Linked DNA regions of Homo sapiens: region 2 is linked to region 1. Evidence: fine-mapped expression QTL. A gene starts in region 1. The other region holds a variant in brackets. All regions are shown on one strand. Distances are from middle to middle. Region 1 holds the start of SAXO3 (stabilizer of axonemal microtubules 3). Region 2 overlaps GYS1 (glycogen synthase 1).

Evidence for each region.
Region 2: its variant is fine-mapped to the expression of SAXO3 in whole blood (TOPMed, PIP above 0.99).

The regions. Positions count from the first base shown.
Region 1 is chr19:49,011,796-49,027,438 of GRCh38, forward strand. It overlaps SAXO3 (stabilizer of axonemal microtubules 3), which reads right to left and starts at 8,754. Exons shown (of 5, transcript NM_001396011.1): 1 at 8,580-8,754; 2 at 8,114-8,314; 3 at 7,852-8,013; 4 at 7,078-7,205; 5 at 6,173-6,545. The coding sequence starts at 8,720. The coding sequence ends at 6,173. LHB (luteinizing hormone subunit beta) reads right to left here and starts at 5,296. Exons shown (of 3, transcript NM_000894.3): 1 at 5,272-5,296; 2 at 4,752-4,919; 3 at 4,185-4,515. The coding sequence starts at 5,286. The coding sequence ends at 4,273. CGB3 (chorionic gonadotropin subunit beta 3) reads right to left here and starts at 12,538. Exons shown (of 3, transcript NM_000737.5): 1 at 12,162-12,538; 2 at 11,641-11,808; 3 at 11,074-11,405. The coding sequence starts at 12,176. The coding sequence ends at 11,091. LOC124904738 (a long non-coding RNA gene) reads left to right here and starts at 8,298. Exons shown (of 2, transcript XR_007067288.1): 1 at 8,298-8,879; 2 at 9,102-11,020. It also overlaps RUVBL2 and the pseudogene NTF6A. RefSeq lists silencers at 1-143, 6,288-6,477 and enhancers at 6,017-6,311, 6,121-7,044, 9,331-9,480.
Region 2 is chr19:48,978,849-48,986,848 of GRCh38, forward strand. GYS1 (glycogen synthase 1) reads right to left here. Exons shown (of 16, transcript NM_002103.5): 4 at 7,002-7,187; 5 at 6,613-6,757; 6 at 3,872-3,989; 7 at 3,407-3,527; 8 at 2,682-2,788. Among named protein-coding and RNA genes, the nearest start is that of GYS1, 10 kb to the right of the region's middle. RefSeq lists an enhancer at 114-353. The variant C/CCCAG (reference allele first, on the strand shown) is at 4,877.

The DNA.
Region 1 (15,643 bases):
TCCCAGGTGTTGCCAGCACCCTGTGCACGGGGAACTCTTAATGTTGTGTTTGGCCTGAGGATGCCGGGGACAGATTCCTGTGACACAGAGGGTACTGTGCTGTGCTGAAGCCTGGGAACCTCGTCTCCCAGGTGTTGCCAGCACCCTGTGTAGCTGGGATTACGGGCACCTGCCACCATGCCCGCTGGCTGTCTTCTCCACCTCGCCACATTTTGGCCCGCAGGAAGCAGGGGGATGTGGAGGGCAGGCAGCCCCCATAGGCTGTGATCCACAGGCTGCACCCCAACCTTGCACCCCCATTCCATTGCCCGGCACTGCTTGGGCTCAGTGCTGTACCTGGTGGCAAAGAAGGCTGGGTACTGTCAGCTCCAGCCCTGCAGCCTTGGGCCCAGCTGAAACTGGGCGGTTGGGATGGGCATCACAAAAGGGAAGAAGCGGGCACCCTACAGAGGATGCTGGGCCGCTGGGCCTGGCTCTGTGTTTGGCTCTTTTAACTCCTTGGATCCGCAGAAGAAGCTCAGAAGGTAGATATCACCTCAGCCCCATTTTATAGGGCAGGACAGTGAGGCCCAGTGACTTGCCCAGGTCACAAGTCTAGAAGGTAGCAGGGCCGTAATTTGGTCTCTGGATGGCTGGACACTGGAAGAGACCCCCAGGGCTGATGGTGTTTTCACAGAAACTGCAGGTCAGGGCCTGGGGACTGCCCAGGGGCACCTCCTGTGGGAGGCAGCAGCTACGGGCAGCCCTGATTGTTCGTAGACTCTGTATCTGAGAATCTCGCTTGCTAAGATTTATTTGTAATCCCCAAATAAATATCTGCCCTGCTTTCGGCAACAAATTCAAGTCACCTGACACCCACTTTCCCAGCTGAGTGTGAACGAGGCAACACTGCCTGCTCCCTTAGCGCTCATGCTGTAAATAAGTGTCCTTGTTGTATTCTATTTAGTGCTACGTTTGTCACTTTTGTTCTTTGAGACAGGGTCTTGCTCTGTCGCCCAGGCTGGAGTGCAGAGGCACGATCATGGCACACTGCAGCCTCAGTGCCCACCACACACACACACACACACACACACACACACACACACACACCACCCCTGGGACTCAATCAGTCCTCTGGCCTCAGCCTCCTCATCAGCTGGGACCACGGGCATGCACCACTATGCCTAGCTAATTTCTGTTTTTGTTTTGAGACGGAGTCTAGCTCTGTCACCAGGCTGGAGTGCAGTGGCACGATCTCGGCTCACTGCAACCTCTGCCTTCTGGGTTCAAGCAGTTTTCCTGCCTCAGCCTCCTGAGTAGCTGGGATTATGGGCACCCGCCACCATGCCCAGCTAATTTTGGTATTTTTAGTAGAGACAGGGTTTCACCATATTGGCCAGGCTGGTCTCGAACTCCTGACCTCGTGATCTGCCCACCTCAGCCTCCCAAAGTGTTGAGATTACAGGGGTGAGTCACCGCGTCCGGCCTAATTTTTTTTTTTTTTTTGTAGAGATGGTGTTTTGCCATGTTGCCCAGGCTGGTCTCAAACTCCTGGGCTCAAGCAATCCACCCGCCTCAGCCTCCCAAAGTGTTGTCACTTTTTTTGTGCCTTTTTTTTTTAAACTTTTTGGGGCCATTTGTTGGTGATATTGCCATTTAAAGTGTCCCCTGTGCACAGTGTTGAAGTGCTGTCTAGTATCCTAAGTGCAAGGAGGCTGTGAAGCCTGACGGAGAAAATGCCATGTTACAGACGCTTCGCTGAGCCCAAGTTAGAATGCTGTTGACACGAGCTCCATGTTAGAGAATAAACAGTGATGTTACATAACAAACACATGGAAATAGAAACACACATACATGAGGCCAGGCGCGGTAGCTCACACCTGTAATCCCAGCACTTTGGGAGGCCGAGGTGGGTGGATCACGAGGTCAAGAGAATGAGACCGTCCCGGCCAACATGGTGAAACCCTGTCTGTATTAAAAATAGAAAAAACTAGCTGGGCGTGATGGCGTGCGCCTGTAGACCCAGCTACTTGGGAGGCTGAGGCAGGAGGATCGGTTGAACCCGGGAGGCGGAGGTTGCAGTGAGCCGAGATCGCGCCACTGCACTCCAGCCTCGCAACAGAGCGAGACTCCGTCTCAAAAAACAAACCAAAAAGACCAGAAACACACAAATGAAAATACGCATAGACCCAGATTATATATATATGGATTGATGAAAATACTGTAAGCCGAGGCTCGAGAGAGCCTAACCCTGTATTCCAGTAGGAGCAGTGGCTCAGGATCAGCTAATTGGAGTGTTCACGATGACTTTCTAGAACCTCACTACTGTGAATAAGGGGAACTGACTGTATCCCCTGGCACCAGCCCTGGGCTGGCCCCGCTGCAGCAGGGAACAAGACAGGTGCAGTCCCCTCCTTTGTGAAGCTTTGTGTCGAGCACGGGAGTGGGACCTTGATCCAGTAATCCTGGAGGCAGAGATCTAGCTTAAAGCAGCCCAGCTCCGCGGAAAGGTGCCCTTGGGGGACTGACGCAGCTGTGGAAGGCTGCGTCATCAGGGGTGATGTCATCATGTGACAGGAGACGCGAGCTAAAGGTTAAGTGGTGTTGGGCCCAGTGAGTGGGTGGCGATGGGAGGTGAGAGTGTTCCCAGCAAAGGGAATGAAGAGGGAACATGCCCCTGACAGCCCCCTCTTTCTGCCTCTTCCTCAGAATCCGGGGCACCAGCTACCAGAGCCCTCACGGCATCCCCATAGACCTGCTGGACCGGCTGCTTATCGTCTCCACCACCCCCTACAGCGAGAAAGACACGAAGCAGATCCTCCGCATCCGGTGCGGGCAGGACCAGGCCGTGCGCCTGAGACGCAGGGCTGGGGTCTACCCTGTTTGACAAATGCTGACACTGAGGTCCAGCGGAGTGGCATGGTGGCTGGGCCTACAGGAGAGAGGGCTGAGCGGGCACCCAGACGGTGGCCTCCGATCCGGGAGCAGGAGCCACGGTGGGAAAGGGAGGCGAGGTACCCGTGACTGGTGTTGGGGCCAGCGCCCTGGGGGTGGTCAGGAGGCCTCGGTTTTAGGTCCAGCCCAGCCCCTGTCTCCGTGGCTCTTCTAGCCTCAGCATTCTATGGTTCTAAGATGCAGGCGCCACATATTCCCAGTGGGGAAGGGCCAGAGGGTTGCTGTGGCCACTTCTGCTGCAGTCAGAGGCTGGGCCCCGGCTGAGCCACCCCTGTCCCCCACTGCTTGCAGGTGCGAGGAAGAAGATGTGGAGATGAGTGAGGACGCCTACACGGTGCTGACCCGCATCGGGCTGGAGACGTCACTGCGCTACGCCATCCAGCTCATCACAGCTGCCAGCTTGGTGTGCCGGAAACGCAAGGTCAGCCGGCCGAATTAGCCAGCAGGGCCAGATGGCGGCAGTGAGTGACACAGTACTTCAGGGGCTTCCAGGGTTCCGATTTCATCCTAGAATGTACGTTTTCAGACGCAGGGAATTTTCATCCCTCAGGTTGGCTTCTGTATCATCCAGCCTGGCCTATAGTAGGTATCAGTAAATCTCTCTTGACTTAAGTAGATGCTGTTAGGTCCACCTTACAGATAAAGAAACTGAGGAATGAAGAGGCTGGGCCCACAACAAGGAGATGGCCAGGCAGGATTTGAACCCAGGCAATCTGGCCCAGAATGCCCTCCCCTCACATGCCACACTCTGCTGCCTAGAGCATGGAGGTGGCATACGCTGGGGTCTGTGCCTTGAGCCTCACGGAGAGGGGCCCAACTGAGGACTCGCCCTCCCCCTCCAGGGTACAGAAGTGCAGGTGGATGACATCAAGCGGGTCTACTCACTCTTCCTGGACGAGTCCCGCTCCACGCAGTACATGAAGGAGTACCAGGACGCCTTCCTCTTCAACGAACTCAGTAAGAATCCCCACCCCGCACCTGCACTGCCAGAGCCAACCTCAGAGGGAGGAAGAGGGAGCTCGGCGTAGAAGGCTCAGGCCCTGCCACCTGGGCGACACTGACCATGTGGCCTTCCTTCTCCCCACAGAAGGCGAGACCATGGACACCTCCTGAGTTGGATGTCATCCCCCGACCCCACCCTGTTTTCCACCAGAGTTCTGACACTGTGACTCTGTATAAAATGGTTGGGAAGCTGCACCCACCCTGTGTATGTGTGGTTGCCCTGAGCCCACAGAAAGACACCTCCAGAGTGCGGATTGAGAAGCCTTTATTGTGGGAGGATCGGGGTGTCAGGGCTCCAGGAGTCGGGATGGACTTGGAAGGCTGCGGGGAGGGTCTTTAGAGGAAGAGGAGGCCTGAGAGTTGGGGGTGGTCACAGGTCAAGGGGTGGTCTTTGGGACCCCCACAGTCAGAGGTGCTGCGGCGGCAGGGTCCACAGCGACAGCTGAGAGCCACAGGGAAGGAGACCACGGGGTCCACACCACGCGGGCAGCCAGGGAGCCGGATGGACTCGAAGCGCACATCACGGTAGGTGCACACCACCTGAGGCAGGGGCGGCAGGACCGCCTGCAGCACGCGCATCTGGAGGCCGTGTGAGTGGGGGAATGAGCATGTGCCTGAGGCCAGCGCCTCAGCTGAGCTCCCAAGCTGACCCCACAGGTCCTGGACTCAGGAGCCCAGGAAGCCCTCTGTTCCTGCCTTCCCACACCCCATTCCCCAACCGCAGGCCAGAGAGGCAGACCACCCTTCCTCCCCCGCTGCCTCTGTGGGTCTGGCCCTGAGGTGGCAGCATCTGCCCCTGGCCCCAGGCAGCTCACCATGGTGGGGCAGTAGCCGGCACAGATGGTGGTGTTGACGGTGATGCACACTGGGCAGCCCTCCTTCTCGACAGCCAGGATGGCATTGATGGGGTGGCACCATGGCCGAAGCGGCTCCCTGGATGCCCATGCCCCGCCCATGCTCAGCAGCAGCAACAGCAGCAGCCCCTGGGACAAGGACACTGCTTCACCCAGGTCTGAGACCGCAGCCCCGAGTCCTGGCCTTCCCATCCCGCGTGGTACACCACCCACAAAGACCCAGAGACCCTTCCCGGCATCTCCTATTCAGGACCCACCACCCGGACACCTGCCTTTCAGAGCCCACCCCACAGCCCAGAGGACCTGAGATGCCCCAACATTTCAGATCCCCACCCTCAGGAACTGCCCCACCTGAAGCTTACTGGGGGTCATGCCCCTCCAGAAAGAGGCCTCCTTCCACAGCTCACACGGGTCTGCCCCTTCTCATGCCAGTGATGGCCTGGAAGGAGGTGGAAGGTGCCCAGGGGCCCTGTAGTCTTACCTGGAGCATCTCCATCCTTGGTGCATCCCCTGCCTCGTGTATCTGGCTATATACCTCGGGGTTGTGGGGGCGGCAAGGCCACCAGGAGGTGATAGGATGCTGGGGTAACCTGGACACTAATCCCCCCGGGGGCGAGAGGTGCACATGGCCAGGGAGGCGCAGGAGTGGCTCAGCAGAGCGCCCCAGCCCTCTCCCCTCAGTGGTCTAGCGCCAGAGGTGAGGCAGAGACCACGGTGAAGTGACCTCAGAGACCCAGTTGTCGAGTGCTAGGGACTAGTCGAGCCTGGAGGCACAGGGAGTAGGGTGTAGGAAGGCCTGCCTCTGCCAATTGTGGGGTCTTGGGAGCCAGGAGGAGGCCATGACCCGAGAAAGGTGCTGGACTGAAGCCTCAACCCTCCACTTGAGGCTTTCCTGCACCACAGTCCAACCTAACAGGAGGGGCGCTGCTTCGGACTTAGCTTCTGCCCAGTGAGAGAGGGTCTCCCCGTGACTGTGCTGCCAGGGAAGCCACTTGACCCAGATGCCCCCAAGGAGGGATTAAGCCCGAGCCCCACCTCTCCCTTAGGGACCTCCGCCCACCCTACCCTCAAGCCAGGATGCCCGGAGCGTCCCCGGAAGTGGGTGTGGTTCAGGTGATTTAACTCATTATTTAATACGCCCGCAGGGTGCGTGTCTTGCCCCCGGGGCCACAGCCTGCAAGGACATTATCTGGACTTAGTCCCCTCTCCGTGATGCCGCAGCTGAGTGGGTGTCTGGGCTAGTCCCGCCCCCACGTTGCCAATAGACGTAATGAGTGCGACTCAGGCTGGGTCCGGAACCCTTCCTAGTGAGCGGAGGTCCCGAGCTCCGCTCGGCAGCGCGGCCCTGGGGGCGGGTCTGGGGTGGGGCTGGCCCTGACGGCTCACACCAGCGCCGGCTTCAAGCTGCCATAGCTGGAGTTCTCGGTACTGTAGGCTTTCGGCACGCTGTAGATGCCCCGCAGGGGCTTCCAGTGCGGGCCGCCCCAGGGCGCCTCCAGCGGGCAGAAGCGGTCGAGCCGCCGGAGCGGGTGCAGCAGGGGGCTGTAGGACTCCTGAGCCAGAGACAGGGCTCCCCGGTGCGGCATGGCCGAGGTCACCGGGCTGACGCGCGGCACGCGGACCCGCGGTGGTCGGGGCGGCCGGGAGGAGCGCGGACAGGGCGGCCGCTGCGGGCCGTGGCTCCAGACCTGGGGCGTCTCTTCGAAGCTCCAGTAGGTCAGGGAGTCCTTGCGGGGGTATCCGGACAGCTCCGTCCTGTGGGAGCAGGGCGGGATGGTGAGGATACAGCTGGATCCTTGGGGACGAGTTTCAGACCTCGGGATCTAAGGAGTCTGCACATTCAAACTCCTGCATTTCCAGGCGAGCACCCCTTAGGAAGGACGCGACCCGGCACGCGTTGCCTGCGTTCCTGGGTCCTCGAGGTACTTAACGTCCTGGAAACTGAGCTTTCGCATCCTAGGGAAGTAAAAGGGGACTTTCGCTTCCTTGGGAAGGAGTATCTGGGGGCTCAAGTACCGAAGGAGGCCCTGCCCTCAGATCCGGAATCCCCTCGAGCCGCTGTGCAGGCTTCCTGTCCCTACCGCGGTTCCTGAGAGGTGACACTAAGGACTCCTGGGTGCTTAAAAAAAAAAGGGAGGGGCTGAGGCCTGAACTTTGGTTCTTGCTGCTACAGAAGTCGAGGCTGAGACCACCGGCTCAGGGAATGGGAGCCAGCCCAGGGGCTCGGCGTGCACCGGCCACGGCGGGGGCTGTGCAGGAGGCGGTGCCGAGCGAGAGCCCGGCTTACTTGGGATAGAACCGAAAGTCCCGCGCCGAGGTGGTCAGATAGAGCTGGCGGCGGTCCAGGACGCCCCGGTCGGATACTGTGAAAGGCCGGCCAGACAGCTCGGGGTTCTTCGTCCAGGCAATTAGAGCCTGAGCAAGATTGGGGGAGGAGGCATACCCAAGACATAGATTTCATACCCCATCCCAAGCCCTGGGTCCCGAGTTCAGAATCCCTCTCCTTCGGCCTCGACAGCCATGACGGCCACGGCCCTCACACCCCGCCCCAGGGTTAGAGCCCTTCCTGCCACCCACGCCAGGGAACTTCAGCTTCCTTTCTCATACCCGAACCCTTCCCAGCCTCACCTCCCTAAATCCAAGCACCTTCTGCTGTTCAAGGAACTCAAACCCAAGCCCCCAGCCACCAAAAACAACCTCCCTGGTTCCGCTCTGTCTTAAACCGTCTTGGTGTGGCCACTGGAGCTGAGCTGCATCTTGGGCAGCAACTCCAAGTTACCTCTCCCAACTCCCACCTGACCCCGTCTCAGAATATTCTAGTCTCCTCCCCACCCACAGCCCGCCGTCTAGCTCCGCAGCAGCTTAGGAGCCCTGAAGGTGAGTTTGTAGTCCCTGGTCCTTCTGGCCTGGCCTAATGCCCAGCCCCTCCCCCGGCTCCTCTAACCTCGCGATCCCGCCCCAGACCCTTTAGCCACGCCCCAAAGCCGTGATTCCTTCTGGCCCCGCCCCAGGCTCCCGGAGCTCCGCCCCGTCTCGCCGGCGCCGGCTTCCACCCAGACACCTGGGAAGGACCCCCGCGGTGGTGGTCTGCGAGTTGTGGGGGCTGGGGCCCGAAGTATTCCGGGGCGCGCGGGTCCCCGCTGGGAGAGCCAGTGTACTGCGCCCTCGTCTCGCTGCTCTGGTACTTTGTGGTCAGTGGGAGGCGCCAGCCGCGGTGTCTGAGCTGCGGAAAGGCGACCCAGAGACTCACGTGAAGGAGCAGGGGACTCAAATGCAGTCCCCCGCCCTGTCCCCTGCGGACTCCGGCACTCCCCAAACTTTACCTTTTCTCCTAAATCCTTGATCCCCACAGTCCGCGTGGGGTCTGCAGGCTCTGGGGCTCTGGGCTGGGCGCAGGGCCCGCCATGGGTCTTGGGCACGTAGGCCGAGCCAGAGGTTGTCTCCCATCTGCTGAGGACCTCGTCGAAAGCCCAGTTGTGAGAATCCTGCTTTGCAACTTGGGGTAGAGGGTCCGCGACCGTGGACTGGAGAGAAGGCGCCGCACATCAGCTAGAAAGACTCAGGAGTCCCTATCACCCCCCACCCCAAACTCTGACCTCTTCCAGTCGGCCCCCAGCCCTTTCCTCTGCAGTCCCTGGCATTCAGCTTCCCTGGTGCCTCCTCTCTCAGACCCAGAACTCCAGGACCCTCCTCCTTCAGAGAGGAGTCCAAGCTCCCAATCCGCTTTATTTAGCCCCTATCTTTCTGGGTCTCCAGGCCCGGCAGGGCTGCAGCGTAGGGTCCGCTCACCTGCACCGTGGGCGGGGTGAAGGGTATGGGTGGGATAATGCGGTGGGAAAAGTAGCTGCTGGTGAGATGGCAGTTGGGCCTGGATCCAGGTACCTCGGTTGCAGAGATACGACAGCCCGGAGCCAGGGTGCCACTGGCCATGGTTCCACCCCCACTCCGTAGCCAAGCAGGAGCTGGCTTATTGTGGTTGTTGCCCCAGGTGACAGAACCCGCCCACCCAGAACCTAGTCAATCAAGGGCCTGCAGGCACCTGGATGGATGGAATGAGAAAGAGACCCAGAGACAGGGACCCCAAGAGGGGTACAAAGAAACACAAGGAGGGGGAATGGAGACTCAAAGATAGGAGGGTGGAAAGGGAAGGAGAAGTTCAGTATTTCAGAGACCCAGGGGGTGGGGGAGAGAGAAACCCAAAAAGAGGGACAGGGACCTGGAGGTGTCAGAGATCCAGACAGAGAGACAGAGACCCCTGCGCTGCACCTAGCAACTCAGGACATCCATGAGAAACACCCCCCTTTCTTCCAGGGCCCAGATGCTCCTGGCTGCTTCCTCCCTCTACCAGGCCTGCCCACCTCAGGGTAACGATTTCCAGACATCCCCGGGGCTCCCCGACCCTCCCTGCATGCACGTGCTGAAGTAATCAGCACTAGCATTGGCTGTCCTGCCTGCCTTTGATTGGCTTGAAAAGTTCCACCTGGGTAGGCGGGGTGTGGAAACAGGGAGGCACCCACAGAGAAGTGCACCGGACCATAGCGAAAAACATGGGCTTTGATGAGTGAGAAAGAAATACAAGAGAGGAGAGAGACAGGGAGGAAGACACAGACCACGCTGGAAACGGAGCTATTAGTACTCACCCAGAGGCTAGAGCCACCGGAAGTTAGAGACAGAGAGAAAGGCGGCAAAAAAGAGCAAAATCAGAGATGGTAACAAGGAGATGTAGAAACGGAGGCAGCCACACCCCTCCCTGCCGAGGGGCCTGGTCTGTACAGATTGGTGGAGGGGGTGCCTATGTCCTTTGCTCAAAGCTGGACCTGAGAGAGAGAGAGGGGGAGAGAAAGTGAGAGAGAGAGAGTGTGTGTGTGTGTCTGTGTCTGTGTGTTGGCAACACATGTGGGGAGATGGGTAATAGGTAAAGGGCTATTGTGAAGTCCTGTGGTCTGTCCCAGACAGAGAGAAAGAGAGAGAGAGAGAGAGAGACAGAGTGTGTGTGTGTGTGTGTGTCTGTCTGTGTGTTGGCAACACATGTGGGGAGATGGGTAATAGGTGAAGGGCTATTGTGAAGTCCTGTGGACCAGAGAGAGAGAGAGAGAGTGAGTGTGTGTGTGTCTGTATGTCTGTGTGTTGGCAACACATGTAGGGAGATGGGTAATAGGGGTCATAGGTGAAGGGCTACTGTGAACTCCTGTGGTCTGTCCCTGGCTTCCCTTGTCATTTCTTCACCATATAGAGCTTTTGGTCACCGGGCACGATGACTCACTCCTGTAATCCCAGCACTTTGAGAGGCAGAGGCGGGCAGATAACTTGAGGTTAGGAGTTTGAAACCAGCCTGGCCAACATGGCAAAACCCTGTCTCTATCGAAAAATATAAAAAGTAGCCAGGCATGGTGGCGCACACCTGTAATCCCAACTAAGGCAGGAGAATCACTTGAACTCAGGAGGTGAAGGTGGCAGTGAGCTGAGATCATGCCACTGCACTCCAGCCTAGGGGACAGAGCAAGACTCCATCTCAAAAAAAAAAAAAAAAATAGCTTTTGGTCTAGGCCTCTGCCTCCTCAACCCTCATTATCTCATCCCACGAGCCCATTCTTCAGACAAGGAAACCTGAGGCTGCCTTCTGCAGCCAGGCCCACAATCCCACTTACTGTTCCTCCCTGAATCATGCTTCTGGGGCCCTTCTGTTGGATTTTGCTGACCCTACTCAAGGGCTCTCAATGACGAATAACCCCCTGATCCTAGCCAGGGGGACGGCGAGTTAGTCAGAACCTCATGTCCCACTCAAACTGGACAATTTTTTTTTTTTTTTGAGACGGACTTTCCCTCTTTTTGCCCAGGCTGGAGTGCAATGGCACAGTCTCCGCTCACTGCAACCTCCGCCTCCCGGGTTCAAGCGATTCTCCTGCCTCACCCTCCAGAGTAGCTGGGATTACAGGCACCCGCCTACACGCCCAGCTAATTTCTTTATGTAATTTTAGTAGAGACGGGGTTTCACCATGTTAACCAGGCTGGTCTTGAACTCCTAACCTCAGGTGATTCGCCTGTCTTGGCCTCTCAAAGTGCTGGGATTACAGGCATCAGCCATCGCACCTGGCCATCAAGCTGGAAAATTTTAAGGTCTGTTTCTTTCCCAATGTAGAGTAAAGTTGCGATGTCATCCCCCGACCCCACACTGTTTTCTACCAGAGTTCTCATACTGTGACTCTGTATAAAATGGTTTGGAAGCTGGACCCATCCTGTGTGTGTGTGGTTGCCCTGAGCCCACAGAAAGACACCTCCAGAGTGCGGATTGAGAAGCCTTTATTGTGGGAGGATCGGGGTGTCCGAGGGCCCCGGGAGTCGGGATGGGCTTGGAAGGCTGGGGGGAGGGGCCTTTGAGGAAGAGGAGTCCTGGAAGCGGGGGTCATCACAGGTCAAGGGGTGGTCCTTGGGACCCCCGCAGTCAGTGGTGCTGCGGCGGCAGAGTGCACATTGACAGCTGAGAGCCACGGCGTAGGAGACCACGGGGTTCACGCCGCGCGGGCAGCCAGGGAGCCGGATGGACTCGAAGCGCACATCGCGGTAGTTGCACACCACCTGAGGCAGGGCCGGCAGGACCCCCTGCAGCACGCGGGTCTGGAAGCCGTGTGAGTGGGGGAATGAGCATGTGCCTGGGGCCAGCGCCTCAGCTGAGCTCCCCAGCTGCCCCCACAGGTCTCAGACTCAGGGGTCCAGGAAGCCCTCTGTTCCTGCCCTCCCACACCCCATTCCGCAGCCCCTGACCAGAGAGGCAGACCACCCTTCCTCCCCCGCTGCCTCTGTGGGTCTGGCCCTGAGGTGGCAGCACCTGCCCCGGCCCCGGGCAGCTCACCATGGTGGGGCAGTAGCCGGCACAGATGGTGGTGTTGACGGTGATGCACACGGGGCAGCCCTCCTTCTCCACAGCCAGGGTGGCATTGATGGGGCGGCACCGTGGCCGAAGCGGCTCCTTGGATGCCCATGTCCCGCCCATGCTCAGCAGCAGCAACAGCAGCAGCCCCTGGGACAAGGACACTGCTTCACCCGGGTCTGAGACCGCAGCCCCGAGTCCTGGCCTTCCCATCCCGCGTGGTACACCACCCACAAAGACCCAGAGACCCTTCCCGGCATCTCCTATTCAGGACCCACCACCCGGACACCTGCCTTTCAGAGCCCACCCCACAGCCCAGAGGACCTGAGATACCCCAACATTTCAGATCCGCACCTTCAGGAAATGCCCCACCTGAAGCTTACTGGGGGTCACGCTCCTCCAGAAAGAGGCCTCCTTCCACAGCTCACACTGGTCTGACCCCTTCTCATGCCAGTGATTGCCTGGAAGGAGGTGGAAGGTGCCCAGGGGCCCTGCAGTCTTACCTGGAACATCTCCATCCTTGGTGCGTCCCCTGCCTCGTGTACCTGGCTTTATACCTCGGGGTTGTGGGGGCGGCAAGGCCACCAGGAGGTGATAGGATGCTGGGGTGAGCTCGACACTAACCCCTCGGGGGGCAAGAGGTAGACAAGGCCAGGGGGGCGCAGGAGTGGCTCAGCGGAGCGCCCCAGCCCTCTCCTCTCACTGGTCCAGCGCCAAGGGTGAGGCGGAGACCACGGTGAAGTGACCTCAGAGACTCAGTCGTCGAGTGCTAGGGACTAGTCGAGGCTGGAGGCACAGGGAGTAGGGTGTAGGAAGGCCTGCCTCTGCCTATGGTGGGGTCCTGGGAGCCAGGAGGAGGCCGTGACCCGAGAAAGGTGCTGGACTGAAGCCTCAACCCTCCTCTACTTGAGGCTTTCCTGCACCACAGTCCAACCTCCCAGGAGGGGCGCGGCTTCGGACTTAGTTTCTGCCCAATGAGAGAGGGCCTCCCCGTGACTGTGCTGCCAGGGAAGCCACTTGACCCTGGTGCCGCCAACGAGGGATTCAGCCCGAGCCCCACCTCTCCCTTAGGGACCTCCGCCCACCCTACCCTCAAGCCAGGATGCCCGGAGCTGTCCCCGGAAATGCGTGTGCTTCAGGTGATTTAACTGATTATTGAATAGGCCCGCAGGAGGTGTGTCCTGCCCATGGGGCCGAAGCCTCGGAGGACATTATCTGGACTTAGTCCCTTCCCCGCGATGCCATCAAGCTGGACAATTTTAAGGTCTGTTTCTTTCCCAATGTAGGGTATAGGTTGGCACAGGGAAGAGGGCTAGAAACCTGACTTGAGCTCCCCGCCCAGGGCTGAACTCTCCAGCATCCTGATCACTTCTCATTGAACCTTGCTTATACTCCCCGTGTGATCGGTAGCTCTTTATCTCAAAACAGAATATTCTAAGCCAACCCCTGCCTGCTCTCACCAAGTAAGATTTCTCATTTGAACCCCAGCTCCCAGATACTTAAAGGCCTTCTGTAGACCATGTCCTCAAGGTCCCCTGGCCATCTGCTTGCATGTTCCAGTTTCCCTCCTCCCCCATGCACATCGTGAAATGTGCCCTCCCACTCCCCAGGATGAGCAAGGTGGTGTCCTCTGTGACTGAGCAGTCAGCAACTTAACACCAAAGGTCACCAATGATCAAATCCATGAGAGTTGATCCGAGGAGTTATGTATTAGGGCTACGAAAGAGTAAACACTCAGTAAATAGTGGCTATTATTATTATCATCATCATCATCATCATCATGATTACCCTCAAGTTCCCCTGGGAGAGCTCCTATTCAACCTTCAAAACCACATGTGGTGGCACCCATCCTGCAGAGATTGAGCTCAAATTCAGAGAGTTGTGATTTTGTGATGATTTGATGAGTTCCCCAACTGGGGTCCGTCCGTAGAGCAGCTGGGCCAACCCTGAGGTCTCTCAGCATCCAGCTCTGTTCTTTTTCTGCCTGACCAGTTCCTGGGTATAAGTCTCAGGCCCGGCCAGTCCGGCTGAGGAGTGTGCAGACACAGGCTGTGCCAGTTTGAATCCATCGCCAGTCCACACGGCCCTGGGCATCAGCGGTCAATGCCCGCACATAGGACTGCTTGGCCTTGCACTCAGACACCCAGTGCCCCCCGGTCCACACCCCGGCGGCAGCCCCCTCCACCTACCCCCGGGCCACCTTCCTCAGATTTATCGGCCTCGAAGTGGGCAACAAAGAAGTGCTGGCGGAGGGAACTGCCGACAGCTGCAGGCACCTCGCCCAACACCTCCACCTCGAGCACACCCAAGTCCACAGCAGTCCAGGGGTCTGTCACCCAGACACTGACTGCATCGCACACGGCCAGCTCACCCTGATGACTCGCCGGTGAAGTATCGCTCACCCCTCGCTGGCTGCGGTTGGCCCGGGCGCCTGCTGACTCCCGAAAGGCTCCAGTCTCCAGCAGGAAGACCAGAGGGGGCCCGGCAGCGGCACCCCTAGACAGGACCACTCGGGGGAAAAGAAGGTCCCACTCTGGAGGAGGAAAAGGCGACAATGTCGAGGATGGGGTTAGGACTCCATTGACACACTGGGGAGGAGGAAAATGAGGGGGATGCGGAGGGAGCCTGGGGGAGTGGGAGCATCTCTCAGAGCATCTCTCAGAGCACATGGAGACAGGGAAAAGGAGGCTGGGATTAGAGAAGAGGATAAACACTTCAGTGGGGTCAGAAGTTGGAAACCCCAGGGGAGGCCTGCCTGCCAGGATTATGGGGAAGCCCTTGCTCTAGAAGTTTGGGGGACTCCATATATAGGACTTGCATCACACCCAACTTGTAGATTAATAATAAATATTCAACAACTACAGGTCAGGCACTATGGCTCACACCTGTAATCCCAGCACTTTGGGAGGCTGAGGCGGGTGGATGACTTGAGGTCAGGAGTTCGAGAGCAGCCTGGCCAACACTGTGAAACAACATCTCTACTGATAATACCAAAATTAGCCAGGCCTGGTGCTGCACGCCTGTGGTCTCAGCTACTCAGGAGGCTGAGGCAGGAGAATCGCTTGAACCCGGGAGGCCGAGATTGCAGTGAGCCAAGATGGTGCCACTGCACTTCCGCCTGGACAACAGAGTGAGACTCTGTCTCACAAAAAAAATAAAAATAAAAATAAGGCCGGGCATGGTGGCTCACACTTGTAATGCCAGCATTGTCGGAGGCTGCAGTGGGTGGATCAGCTGAGGTGAGGAGTTCCAGACCAGCCTGACCAACATAGAGAAACCGCACCTCTACTAAAAATACAAAATATCCTCCAGCGTGGTGCTGCATGCTTATAATCCCAGCTACTTGGGAGGCTAAGGCAGGAGAATCACTTGATCCCAGGAGGCAGAGGTTGCAGTGAGCCAAGATCGCGCCATTGCACTTCAGCTTGGGCAACAAAAACAAAGCTCCATCTTAAAAAAATAATAATAATAATCATAAAATAAAGATAAAAATGTTCGGCCGGGTGCAGTGGTTCACGCCTGCAATCCCAGCGCTTTGGGAGGCCGAGGTGGGTGCATCACCTGAGGTCAAGACTTTGAGACCAGCCTGGCCAACATGGTGAATCCCTGTCTCTACTAAAAAAAAAACACAAAAATTAGCTGGGTATGGTGGTGCGCACCTGTACTCCCAGCTACTCAGGAGGCTGAGGCAGGAGAATCGCTTGGACCCATGAAGCAGAGGTGTAGTGAGCCGAGAGCGCGCCACTGCACTCCAGCCTAGGTGACAGGGCCAGACTCCGTCTCAAAAAAAATAAAAATAAAAATAAAATAAAAATAAAAGTAGAAAATATTCAACTACTATTACTCAATAGCAACAGATGGTAAAATACAGGCTCAGAGAAATTAATGATTTGTGCCTGGTCACACAGCCAACAAATGGCAGAGATGGGACTTCACCTCTGGGCAACTGCACTCTGCTATCCTTCCTGTAGAACTCTGAGGAACC
Region 2 (8,000 bases), 37 kb before region 1:
AGGATAGCAAGGAAACTGAGGTGTGAGCAGGGAAGCCGTGCCCTGGGGCCTCCAGGCTGGAGGATGGGGACCCAGGGGGCAGGCCCTGGAAGGCTTAGGACCCACGTGCCTGACATCAGCTGTGTGGTCAGGGACAGGTGGCCTTCCCTCTCTGACTGCAGTGACTCATTTTTCAGAGGAGGATGAAAATAGAATCAACCTCAGAGGTTTGCGATGAGGACCCAATGATGTCATGCCAAAAAGTACACATGGCAAGCCTTCCAGAAATGTCAGCTATTATTAGGACTTGTACTTGTCCTGCAGATGGCAATGCTAAGCCCCATTTTATACGAAAAGAAAGTAAGATTCTGAGAAAGGACCACTTAGGCACACAAGTAAAGCTAGCAGTGTCACACAACAGCCCCACGGTCACTCCTCCACTTAAAATCCTCCCATAGCTCTGGCCTCATTTATTTTTCTTTCTTTGTCTCTTTTTCTTTTTTCTTTTCTTTTTTTTTTTTTTTTTTTTTTTTTTTTTTTTTTTTTTTTTGAGACAGAGTCTTGCTCTGTCGCCCAGGATGGCGCAATCTCGGCCACTTTCTAGGTTCAAGAAATTCTCCTGCCTCAGCCTCCTGAGTAGCTGCAATTACAAGCGTGCGCCACCACATCTGGCTAATTTTTATATTTTTAGTACCGATGGGATTTCACCACGTTGACCAGGCTGATCTCGAACTCCTGACCTCAAGTGATCTGCCCTCCTCAGCCTCCCAAAGTGCTGGGATTACAGGTGTGAGCCACCGCGCCCAGCCTCTTTCTTTCTTTTTTTTTTTTTTTTTTTTGAGACCGAGTCTCACTGTCACCCATGCTGGAGTGCATTGGCGCGATCTTGGCTCACTGCAATCTCTGCCTCCCGGGTTCGAGCGATTCTCCTGCTTAGCCTCTCGAGTAGCTAGGACTACAGATGTGTGTCACCACGCCCTGCTGATTTTTTTTATTTTTAGGAAAGACGGGGTTTCACCATGTTGGTCAAGCTGGTCTCAAACTCCCGACCTCAGGTGATCCACCCGCCTCGGCCTCCCAAAGTGCCGGGATTACAGGTGTGAGCCACCACGCCCGACTTCTTTTTTATTTTTTTGAGACAGAGTCTCACTCTGTTGCCTAGGCTGGAGTGCAGTGGCGCAATCATGCCTCACTACAGCCTCAACCTCCAGGGCCAAAATGATCCTCCTGCCTCCTGTAGCTGGCACTACAGGTGCCCTCCATCTTGCCTCACTTTCTACCCCTTCTCTATGAGACATGTCACTCCAGCCCCATGGGACTCCCCACCGCGTCTCAATCATGCCTCGGGGCCTTCGAGTTTGCTGTTCCTCAGATACCCACAGGGCTTGCTCCCTCGTCACCTTTCCTCGTCTCTGCCCAATAACACTTTCTCAGTGTGGCCTGTCCTGACAACCCCGTCTCATATTCCAGTTCTGCTTTATTTTTGCCCAAAAGTAAATTCCGTCTACAGGATTTTCTAGAATACAAGCTCCATGAGGAAAGGGATCTTATCTTTCTGGTTCACAGCTGTATTCCCAGGACCTGGAATACATGAGGAGGGCAGGTCACTTGAGGTCAGGAGTTCAAGACCAGCCTGGTCAACGTGGTGAAATCCCATCGGTGCTAAAAATATAAAAATTAGCTAGCACATAGTAGATGCTCAGTGAGTATCTCTGCTAATGAATGAACGGTTTTACAGATGAAGAAACTGAGCTTTGCTGGGAGGCGGAGGTTACAGTGAGCTGAGATTACGCCACTGCACTCCAGCCTGGGCAACAGTGAGACTCTGTTTCAAAAAAAAAAAAAAATCAGAGAAAAGAAAAAGAAACTAAGCCAGGCGCAGTGGCTCACCCCTGTAATCCCAGCACTTTGGGATGCCAAGGCGGCTGGATCACCTGAGGTCAGGTGTTCAAGATCAGCCTGGCCAACATGGTGAAACCCCATCTCTACTAAAAATACAAAAAAAGGCTAGGTGTGGTGGCTCACGCCTGGAATCCCAGCACTTTGGGAGGCTGAGGCAGGCGGAACACCTGAGGTCAGGAGTTCAAGACCAGCCTGGCCAATATAGTGAAAACCTGTCTCTAATAAAAATAAAAAGTTAGCCAGGTGTGGTGGCACACCCCTGTAGTCCCAGCTACTCAGAGGCTGAGGCAGGAAAATCGCTTGAACCCAGGAGGCAGAGGTTGCAGTGAGCCGAGATCATGCCATTGCACTCCAGCTTGGGCGACAGAGCAAAACTCCATCTCAAAATAAAAAAAAAAAAGAGGGCCGGGTGCGGTGGCTCATGCCTGTAATTCCAGCACTTTGGGAGGCTGAGGCGGGCAGATCACGAGATCAGGAGTTTGAGACTAGTCTGGCCAATGTGGTGAAACCCCATCTCTACTGAAAATACAAAAATTAGCCAGGCATGGTGGTGTGCACCTGTAGTCCCAGCTACTCGAGAGGCTGAGGCAGATGACTTGCTTGAACCCAGGAGGTGGAGGTTGCAGTGAGCCAAGATCGCACCACTACACTCCAGCCTGGGCGACAGAGTGAGACTGTCTCAAAAACAAACAAACAAACAAACAAACAAAACAAAAAACTGAGACTCTAGGAGAAACACAGGACCCAAAGCATGCATCTGGGAGTGGGCTGCGCCAGGGGCCGGAGCGAGGGCTGCTAACCAAAGCTGTTTGCGCACAGCTTGGCCTTTGAGGGTTTCCACGTTGAAATTGTTGGTCCGCGCTGGCATGATGAAGAAGGCAACCACTGTCTGCTCGCTGCCGTTCACCTGCGCAGAAAGAAAGGAGGGGGAGGCCAGGATCATGTGGGGGAAGCCTGGAACCAGCCAGCCTTTCTGTCAAGACCACTGGGATCCTGCCATACCCATTCCTGTCAAGGAGAATTATAGGACAGTCCCCACCTGGACTCTGACCTTCTTTCTGGGTCTCTATACTCCCCTCACGGCCCCCCACCATACTCAGGGGCTTTCCTACCCCCATCTTCCTGGCTTCTTGGGTTTCTGTTCTGTAATTTTTTGTTTTGTTTTGTTTTGTTTTGTTTTTGAGACAGCGTCTTTTTCTGTCGCCCAGGCTGGAGTGCAGTGATATGATCTTGGCTCACTGCAACCTCCACCTCCCGGGCTCGCGTGATCCTCCCCGTTCACCCTCCCGAGTAGCTGGGACTACACGTGTGAGCCACCATGCCTGGCTAATTTTTGTATTTTTTGTAGAGATGGGGTTTCACCATGTTGCCCAGGCTGGTCTCCATCTCCTGGGCTCAAGTGATCCTCCCGCCTTGGCCTCCAAAAGTGTTGGGATTACAGGTGTGAGCCACTGTGCCTGGCTGTTCTCCCTAGTTATAAACTGCTTTGCTTGCCCTCCCTGTCCCCTCATAGCCCAGGCCTCACTCTGAGCAGATAGTTGAGCCGAGCCAATGCCTCCAGGAAGACGTCAGCACCCTTGTTGGAGAACTCATAGCGGCCGGCGATAAAGAAGTATAAGGTCTTGTCCAAGTTGAAGTCCAGATGCCTAAAGAACCCACAAGGCACGGTAAAGCCCAAAGCCCTCACCCGCTAGCCCTGGCCTCAAAACTACAAATCCCAGAAGCTATGGGTGGGGGGGCAGAGGATGTCTTAGGTAATACAGAGGCATCACGGGGCCTCCTGGGAGTTGTAGTTCTTCTCTTTAGATGGAGATTTCCTTTAATCCTGAGCCCATTGTTCCAGCGCTCAAGAATTAAGGAGGCCGAATACCCAGGTGCCCCCTCCCTCAGACCCAGGAGTCTGGGCCCCCAGCTGCCCCCTCCCCCAGACCTAGATGGTTAGGCTCCCAACGCCCTCCTCTCTTAAGACCTAGGTATATGCCCCACGTACCCATAAAAATGGCCCCGCACAAACTCCTGGATTCGAGCCTTGCTCTGAGCATGGAGGTTCTGGAACTCATGCATGGCAGAAAACTTCTTCACATTCAGCCCATTGGGGGTCACAATATCTGGGATTGGGGGTGAGGGTCCCATGTTTTATTTGTTCATTCAGATCAATGTTGTGGTTGAATGAATAAATGAAGAAAACACCCTTTGCCTTTTGCAATTTTTTTGTTTCAAGAGCGTTCCTATGAGGTCCCCCCTCCCACCTTTTTTGTTTGTTTGTTTGTTTTTGGAGACAGGGTTTCTCTCTGTCGCTCAGGCTGGAGAGCAGTGGCACAATCACAGCTCATTGCATCCCTGACCTCCTGGGCTCAAGCAATCCTCCCTCCTCAGCCTCCCGAGTAGCTGGCACTACAGGCGTGCACTACCACACCCGGCTAATTTATTTATTTTACTTTTGTAGTGATGGGGTCTTGTCATGTTACCCAAGCTGATCTCAAACTCCTGGCTTCAAGCAGTCTTCCTGCCCTGGCCTCCTAAAGTGCTGGGATTACAGGTGTGAGCCACCATGCCTGGCCAGTTCCCTTGGTGACACACCTACCCTGACTCCAAGATGCCTTCTTGCCTAATATTACTTGCTTAGGTTCACAAGCACAAGTATAAGTCTCCTCAGCTACTGCAAATGGCTAACAGGGATCTGATCCACACTGGTGATTCTGGGAAAGTTGTACTTCTTTTGTTTCCTCTTAGCCCACCCTGAGATGGAAATGATTAAACATCCCCAAAGTCCTGCTTCTCCTAGGATATATCCTCTACTTCCAAGCTTCTTACAGGGACCCAATCATTTCTTCTCCTCATAGAAATTAAAGTATATCAACGAAAAACTACAACCCCCATCAGCGCCTAGGGCAAAGTTCTGGAACATATAGAGCTAACCAGTCAAAGGCCTTCTGGGAGTTGTAGTTCTCACCTTATACTCACTGAGAACGGATACTAAGGGCTGGGAAGAATG[C/CCCAG]CCAGTTCTGACCTAACCTTTCTCAAAAGCAAAGTCCACTGATCTTCCATTCCCTTTCATAAGACCAATCTACATTAGCCAATTACAGAATTTTATCATATCTGAAATTAATATGAAAGAAATTATACCTCCCATTAGCCTCCAGAGTATATAGTCAGAGAGCCTCAAATACAGGTCACCACCCCCACAGCCTTCTGGGAGCTGTAGTTCTCTATTCTTTAGGTAAAAAAATGGTAACTGATGGTCCCCAGCTTAGGACTTAGGATGGTCCAAGTTATGATTTTTCTTTTCGAGACAGAGTTTCGCTCTTGTTGCCCAGGCTGGAGTGCAATGGCACAATCTTGGCTCACGACAACCTCTGCCTCCTGGGTTCAAGAGATTCTCCTGCCTCAGCCTCCCGAGTAGCTGGGTGGCTGGGATTACAGGCGCCTGCCACCATGCCCACCTAATTTTTGTATTTTTGGCAGAGAGGGGGTCTCACAATGTTGGCCAGGCTGGTCTTGAGCACATGACCTCAGGTGATCTGCCCACCTCAGCCTTCCAAAGTGCTGGGATTACAGGTGTAAGCCACCGTGCCCAGCCAAGTTATGATTTTTCAACCTTATGATGGTGTGAAAGTTACATACATCCACATGAGTCCAATTTTGGATTTTGATGAGATATTCAACACTTTTTTTTTTTAATTTTTTGAGATGGAGTCTCGCTCTGTTGTCCAGGCTGGAGTGCAGTGGTGTGATCTCGGCCCACTGCAACCTCCGCCTCCTGGGTTCAAGTGATTCTCCTGCCTCAGCCTCCCGAGTAGCTGGGATTACAGGCACCCACCACCACGCCCGGCTAATTTTTGTATTTTTAGTAGAGATGGAGTTTCGCCATGTTGGCCAGGCTGGTCTCGATCTCCTGACCTCGTGATCTGCCCGCCTTGGCCTCCCAAAGTGTTGGGATTACAGGTGTGAGCCACTGCGCCCAGCCTATTCAACACTTTATTATAAAATAGGTTTGTATTAAAATTAGCCAGGCGTGGTGGCAGGCGCGTATAGTCCCAGCTACTTGGGAGGCTGAGGCAGGAGAATGGCATGAACCTGGGAGGCGGAGCTTACAGTGAGCCAAGATAGCGCCACTGCACTCCAGCCTGGGCGACAGAGCGAGACTCCGTCTCAAAAATAAATAAATAAATAAAAATAAAATAAAACAGATTTGTATTGGATGATTTTGCCCAGTCGTAGGCTAACATAAAGTGTTCTGGGCACATTTAAGGTATACTAGCCTAAGCTATGATGTTCAGTAGGTTAGGTGTATTAAATGCATTTTTTTATTTTTTGAGACAGGGTCTCACTGTGTCACCCAGGCTGTGACAGGGTCTCTCCAGGCCACCCAAATCATGCAATGGCACGATCACAGCTCACTGCACCCTTGACCTCCTAGGCTCGAGCAATCCTCCCACCTCAGCCTCCTGAGTAGCTAGGGATACAGGCACACACCATGTCTGGCGAATATTTTAGACAGGGATTCGCCATGTTGCCCAGGCTGGTCTCAAATTCCCGGGCTCAAGTGGTTCTCCTGCCTTGGCCTCTCAAAGTGCTGAGATTACAGGTGTGAGCCACCATGCCCAGCCGAAATACGTTTTCGGTTTATGCTATTTCAACTTACAGTGGGCTTCTTGGGCTGAGGAGCAACTGGCTTTGGCATAGACAGCTGCCTACCTCATTCACGTCTGGGGACTTCAGCCCAGCCCCTACCTGGTTTCCTCTTGAGCAAGTGCTGTGCCTCGATGGCGGTGATCTGGGACACAGTAGTGAAGACGTGAGCGCAGTGGGCTGCCGCCCTTTCCATGCAGTATCGGTGGTAGATCTGCCTCTCCCCTGCTTCCTTGTCCACGTTGAACTGGGTGGGAGGGGACAGCAGTCCGGTTAGAAGGATTGGGGAGAAGACTCTGGAGGTCCAGACACTGGGGTCCCAAGAGAAATTGGTGCTGGGGGCTGGATTCCTGGGTCTGAGGTAGGAGGGGTCTGGGGACTTGGACTCCTGGATCCTGGGAGAAGAGGGGGTGCCATCCCCTTGGGCCCCCCAGAGCTTTGGGTTTTCCTGGCATACTCGCAGTCCCCCATCTGCCACGGTCCCAGCTCACGTTCTCCAGGTTGTTGTAGAAGTCCACGGCACCGGCACACAGGTAGCGCCCCAGCAGCGTGGCATGGGTGGTGAAGATGGTTGCTACAGGCAGTCGCCGGGCACGACACAGGCAGAGTCCAACGCCTGCCAACCACTCATGGAAGTGAGCAACCACATGTGGCTTCTCCTCACTCTGTGCCAGGAACTGTGGGCAACAGGGACAGGGCCACTGTCTCCACGAGTGTTGGGAAAAGAATCGGCAATCCCCAGTAGGGACAAGGACTCGGGGAGAGGTCAATCTGTCACCACTACTGCACAGAGTGGGCAGCGGCCCACTGCAGCAATCCCAACCGGACAGGGACCTGTAAATCCCTGAGGCAGCCCAGGCTGGTCTTGAACTCCTGGGCTCAAGTGACTGCCTCCTCAGGGGTTGACAGGAACTGAGGATTTTTTGGCCAACCATCTAAGTCCTGGCAGGGTTAGATTGGACAGACTGAAGTTTTCATGTTCCCAGGTCCTGGACATAGTTTCCAAAGACCCCTTGTCTCAAGGGTACGCTGTCTGCACCCAACATTGGCAAAGGGACTACAACTCCCAGAATGCCATAGGAGCAGCCAGTTCCTCAATTATTTGTCCCAGGGCATGAGAAATTAAGCTTCTTTTTTTTTTTTTCTTTTTCTTTTTTTTTTTGAGACAGTGTCTCACTCTGTGGCCCAGGCTGGAGTGCCGTGATGCAATCTCAGCTCACTGCAATTCCCGCCTCCCAGGTTCAAGCAATTCTCCTGTCTCAGCCTCCCAAGTAGCTGGGATTTGGGATTACAGGTGCCCACCACCACACCCAGCTAATTTTTTTGTATGTTTAGTAAAGACGAGGTTTGGCCATCTTGAACTCCTGGCCTCACGTGATCTTCCCCCATCGGCCTCCCAAAGTGCTGGGATTACAGGCATGAGCCACCGTGCCCAGCCTGGAAACTAAGCTTCTTGAGCCTCTTAAAACCTAGAAGGGGGTCAAAACCAG